Linked DNA regions of Homo sapiens: region 1 is linked to region 2. Evidence: fine-mapped expression QTL. Tissue or cell type: whole blood. Region 2 holds a variant in brackets; the other region holds the start of a gene. All regions are shown on one strand. Distances are from middle to middle.

Region 1 (2,752 bases), 23 kb before region 2:
GCAGGGGTGAGCTGGGCTCCAGGCCCAGAAGCAGCTGCCCCCAACACCCAGGAAAGGGGCAGCTCGACCTGTGGGTGGGGGAGCCGCTCACCTCCGGCGCCTCCTTTTCGGGGGCCTGGGCTGCCGGCCGCGCCTCCTGCTGCAACTGCCTCAGCTCTGAGCCCTGCAGCTGCACGCGGGCCCGCACCTGGAGCAGCTCCCGCAGCAGGCTCCGCGTGGCGCGCTCACAGCGCTGCTTGTGCTCCCGCAGGCAGGCCACCTCGGCCTGCAGCTCCACCACCCTGGCCGGGGCGAGAGTGGGCGAGTCTGGCGGTGCCCGCCGTGGAGGCGGAGGCGGCGGCGACGTGGTCCTCCCCCGCCAGCACCCCCTGCAGGGCTCACCACTGCTCCAGCTGGTTCCAGTGCTTGGCGGTGTCCTGCTCGGGGACAGAGGCCGTGGATGTCGGATGGCTGGACTCATACCTCTCCGAGAGCTCCTCCAGGCTCAAGGGCTCGGGGCTGGCCAGGCCTCCTGCCAGGAGGAGCCCCAGGTCTTCCAGGGTGACGGCTCTCAGCTGGGAAGGGGCCGATGCCCCTGAGGGTCCACTGTCAGCCAACTCTACAAGGAGGCATCTTGGGAGCTTGCCCCTTGGGGCCCGGCCCCCACTGGAGCTTACGGGAACAAGGCCCCAAACCCCCGCAGGACCCTCGCCCACCACCCAGAGCTCAACGCGTCTCCTTGGGTCACACAGGATCCAGACGGGCTTGGCTCAGACAAGTCCAGGGCCCTGCCTGAAGACACACAGCACTGGGCGGCAGGAACAAGCGAGCTGGAGGGAGCCCGGGGTCAGAAGCAGAGCGGTCCCCACCCTCACACCTGTGGCAAGCCCCTCCCTGGGCCCCGCTCCTCCGCTCTGGTCACCTGACATGGCTGCTGGGCTGCACCGGCCACCCTGCCCTCGGCTGTAGCTTGGGCCTTGGGGCCTCTGAGGTTGCCCAGAGCTGGGCACAGGCCAGGGGGGTCAGGAGCCAGAGGAAGTCCCGTGAGAGCTCTGGGCCTTGAGGGACGAGCTGCTGCCCTCGTCTGGCTGCCTTCTCAGGGTCCCCAGGGAGGCAGGTGTGGGGCAGCGGGGCCGTTCCAGAACCTTCCTTCTCTCCCCAGAACCTCACGGCTTCACAGCCCAACTGCCAATGGAACTCTAGCCCTCAGCTCTCCCACTCCCGCAGGGCCCCCCAACTGCCTGCTTCTGGATGGATCTGAGGGGCCCCACTCCCGAGAGGGCGCAGACACGTGTCCTCTGGCAAAGGGGACTTCTTCAGCTGCCGAGGGAGGGGAAGGAGGCCCTGACGAGGCCTGGGCACGCCGGGAGGGACGCTGGGAGCAGGGAGGCCGAGAGCCCCAGGACACCCCGGACACAGCCAGGCCCACGTCCGAGCGGAGCCCGAGGCCTGGGCAGCGCCATCGGGGTGAGGGGCACAGCCGGGCTCCACGGGAACCCATCTTGCTCAGCAGCCCCATTAAAAGGCAAGAAGCAGCGATGTGAATCCTAACCGCTGATTTTATTTAACCGAATATATCCAAAATATGATCACTTCCAGGTCCTCAGTACACAACCACCACGAGGGAAACCCAGACCTAGGTTTCCGGCGCCGACTCTGAGGCCCGGGAGTTTTCTTCTTGCGTCACCCCAGCGTGGGCACCCCGGCCCGCCCCCCTCCACCTGGAGCGCCTCTGCCTTGCCCCCAGACCCACCAGCCAGGAGCCAGAGGAGGGAGGCTGAGGGGCGGGGACGAGGAAGAGGATGTGGCTGGTGCCCTGGGTGGCCGCAGCCGCTGTCTTTCACGCCTTTCTCACTCCACACGGTGCCCCGACCCCAGGGTCCCGAAAGTCCCAGGCTGTTGGACGTGGTCTGGGTGGGGTGGGAGGGACGACGCTGGCAAAGGCGGGCTGAGAGGATTTCTTTATTTCGCGTTCAGACCCAACACACTCGGACACCTTGGGGCCCTGTGAGGGCTAAGCAGGGTGGTGGCGTCAGCTCCCGGGGAGGCCCCACTCCCTGGGGAGGAAATACACGGCAGGGGGCCGCACCCAGCCCCCCACGGAGGGACCCGTGTTGCTCTAACAGGGACACTGAAGTTGCCTCTGCCGCCCCGTGAGGGGCCTGTGGCGGCCCCAGACCCAGCCCAGCCAGGCCAGAGGAGCCTCCCAGGGGCCCTCAGGTGGTGAGGTGGGGGCTTCCCGGCCCCGGTGCCCACCGGCCCTTCTAGCTGCCTGTGCTGGGCCAGGTGTCCTCTGAGGCCGGCAGGAGTCTGGCCCCCGCTGCACCTGCGCTTGGTGGCTGGCAGGGGCGGGGTAGGGAGGTCACCCTCGAGGCCGGGGTCCCCATGTGCTAGGGGAAGACCTGCCTTCCCAGCCAGTGTCCACAGGGCAGCAATTCCACGCTCTGAGGCTCAGGGACCAAGGCAGGGCTGGGTGTGGGGCCCAGACTCCAAGCTCTGGGGGTTGGGGGACCAAGGCAGGGCTGGGCATGGGGCTCAGGGCCTTGGAGGTTTTTCTCAGCTCTCAACATCACAGCACAGGGCCCGTGAGTCACCCCAGTCCTCTGGGCCTGTGTACCCAAGCCGGATGCAGGCCGGGGAGTGCACGTGGGGCTCCTCTGTGGCGCCAGTGTGAAGCTGCTCTCCGGGGCGGTCGCAGCCTCCAAACCCTGGTGCTACGAGTCCGTGCCTCAGGCCCAGGGACCACAGGCCGTCTGCTCATGGCTGAAAATGA
Region 2 (2,752 bases):
CGTGGTGCAGATGTGACTTACGGAGCTCCCACCCCAGTCTCCGGCTCCTTACTAGAGCCAAGGCGCTGAGGCCAGGCTAGGAGGAGCCAAGACCTCAGCCTCCTTTCCCCAAAGAGATCCTTTGGAGACGACTCCAATTTCCACTATCTCCTGAATCTTTAGCAACATCTGGGGACATGAAGGGAAGAAGGGCTGCCTTCCAGGTGGAGGGACCGCATGCGCAGGGCGCCCGCCATCTGCATCAGAGAGCCCGTGCGCCTGTCAGGAAAGTGTTGGCGGAGGAGTCCAGCGGCTGGTACCGGCCGTGGGAAGACCAACGAGGCTGCCGCCCGCCTTCCCTGGGAGCAGCCCTCCCGGCCCCCAACGCCGTCCCCTCCTCATCCCCCCATCTCTCCCTCCACCTTCCTCAGGCTCGGCCTCCCGCACCAGGTTTCAGCAGGGCCTGGAAGTGCTTCTTGGTGATAGAACGGCAGGTGATGGCGCCAGGAGCCCACAGGGCCGAGGTGGGGACGGGGAGACGTGCAGGAACGGCCTGCACTGGGGCCCAGTTTTCCCTCAACCTCCACCTATCCACGGGGATCACGATTACCACACACAGGCAAGGACACAGAAGCAGAGAAGGAAGGTTTGGGATCTGAGGTCACTGCGAGCCAGGGGTGGGGGTCCTGCTTTCTCTGGAGTGCTCACCCCTGAAGGAGACGGGCTCCCCAAACCGCCATCCCAGAAACTGCCTTCAGAACCAGACCTTCCCGGCGGGGTACAGTGGCTCATGCCTGTAATCCCAGCACTTTCAGAGGCTGAGGCGGGCAAATCACTTGAGGCCAGGAGTTCGAGACCAGCTGGGCCAACATGGCGAAACCCCATCTCTACTAAAAATACAAAAAGTAGGCGGGCTACTTGGGAGGCTAAGGCGGGAGAATCGCTTGAAGCCGGGAGGTGGAGTCTGCAGTGAGCTGAGATCGCACCACTGCACTCCAGCCTAGGTAACAGCAAGACTCTGTCTCAAAAAAAAAAAAAAAAAAAAAAAAAAAAAAAGAACCTGACCTTCCAGCCCACTGCCCTCCAGGGACCCCTTCCCCAACCATCGTCCTGTTACCAGCCACCGTCGCCCTTGCTGTACACCCCCCGTGTTGATGACCCGGTAAGTGGCCCTGGCAGGGGAAGGAACCTGGGCACGTGCCAC[T/TG]GGCCCTTGGCAGACACCAGTCAGAGCCTCCTCCTCTCCCCAGGCAAAGAGCACTCTCAGGCCATCCCCATCAAAAGCCAGGAGCAGAGGCCAGACAGACAGACAGACAGACTCGCAGGTGTCTGCCGTGGCATCTCCACGCCCAGGGGAGAGTGTGGGAGGGGCTAGAGTGCACAGGTCCTGCTGGACACAACCCTGAGTCACAGGGCGCCTGCCCCTCCTCTTCCCCCAGCCTTGCCACATGCCAGTGGCTCTCCCTGAGCCCTCAGTCACAGGCGAAACTCACAGCTTGAGTCTCCTGCCACACGGGCTGACGGTGGGAGGAGGAAGGTGCCACGGTCCAGGCATGATGGAAGCAGTGGCCTGGCCAGCTGCCCACTCCCTCTTGCTCACACTCACATCAAAGCCCCTGGACTCCAGGTCTCACCACCAGAAAACAGCCCTGGGACCAGCGCTGGGCCTCTGACCCCCACCTCCCAGGTGGACAGGTGCCCCGATGCCCCAAACAGAGACCACGGAACCCAAAAGACCCATTTCACCATGAGGAAGGACCCCACGTCCAAACAGGCACCCTGTGGGACACACCCTGCCCAGAGGGCCACCCTCTCCATCACTCAAGATGTCAGCACTTCTCTCTAACGCCACTCAAGGCCTGCCGTGCTTCTCAGGCTATTCCTTGCTGGAAATAACGGATCATTCTGGCCGGACGTGGTGGCTCACGCCTGTAATCCCAGCACTTTGGGAGGCTCAGGCAGGAGGATCGCTTGAGCCCAGGAGTTCAAAGCCAACCTGGACAACGTAGTGAGACCCTGTCTCTACAAAAAATCAAAATCAGCAAGGCATGGTGGCGTGTACCTGTGGCCCAAACTACTCAGGAGGCTGAGGCAAGAGGATCGCTTGAGCCTGGGAAGTCGAGGCTACAGTGAGCTATGGTTGCACCACTGCGCTCCAGCCTGGGCAACACGGCAAGACCCTATCTCTAAAATTAAAAAAAAAAACCCAAACAAAACGAAAACAGCCACAGTCACATGTCCTGGGCGCCAGGCCTGGGAGGCCTTGAGGAGGGCCACCGTCTACACCACGACAGCACTGTCCCACAGCAGCAGGCAGAGCCGCACATGCATTCAGGCCAAGGTGAAGGCTGCCGGTGCAGTATGTGACCAGCGGGCCACCCCCACCGCCGCCGCCTTGGCAGATCCGAGAGGGGTGAGGGGTGAGGGGTTGCCCCCCAGCAGGGCATCAGCTGCCCCTGCCCGGAGTGAAAGGATGGGGCTCCGGCGCCTTGCCTTCCCAGCATCTCTTTCCTTAACTCTGCCAGGACTTTGAGAAGGTGGCTTTCGTAATGGAAGAACACGACGTTTACTTCAAGTTCAGCAATGCATTCCGTGCGGTTACTTTCTTTTTTAAATGCAAGCTCTTATAAATTAAACACTAGATGCTGTTCCTCAAACTCCTGCCACACACGGCAACCTACACGGTCCCAAGCGCCGGACACTAACTAAAAACAGACAGGCTCAGGAACACGTGAGCCAACACTCCCGAGAGGCGAGACTCGGGCCGGACGGGAGG

What was found. PIP is the estimated chance that this variant, and not a neighbour inherited with it, causes the effect.
Region 1: it holds the start of CCDC154, and the variant in region 2 is fine-mapped to the expression of CCDC154 in whole blood (TOPMed, PIP above 0.99).

The regions. Positions count from the first base shown.
Region 1 is chr16:1,443,415-1,446,166 of GRCh38, forward strand. CCDC154 (coiled-coil domain containing 154) reads right to left here and starts at 1,142. Exons shown (of 17, transcript NM_001143980.3): 1 at 902-1,142; 2 at 382-598; 3 at 92-281. The coding sequence starts at 908. CLCN7 (chloride voltage-gated channel 7) reads right to left here. Exons shown (of 25, transcript NM_001287.6): 25 at 1,521-2,752.
Region 2 is chr16:1,465,920-1,468,671 of GRCh38, forward strand. The region is part of intron 1 of CLCN7 (chloride voltage-gated channel 7); the gene reads right to left. Among named protein-coding and RNA genes, the nearest start is that of CLCN7, 7.7 kb to the right of the region's middle. The variant T/TG (reference allele first, on the strand shown) is at 1,184.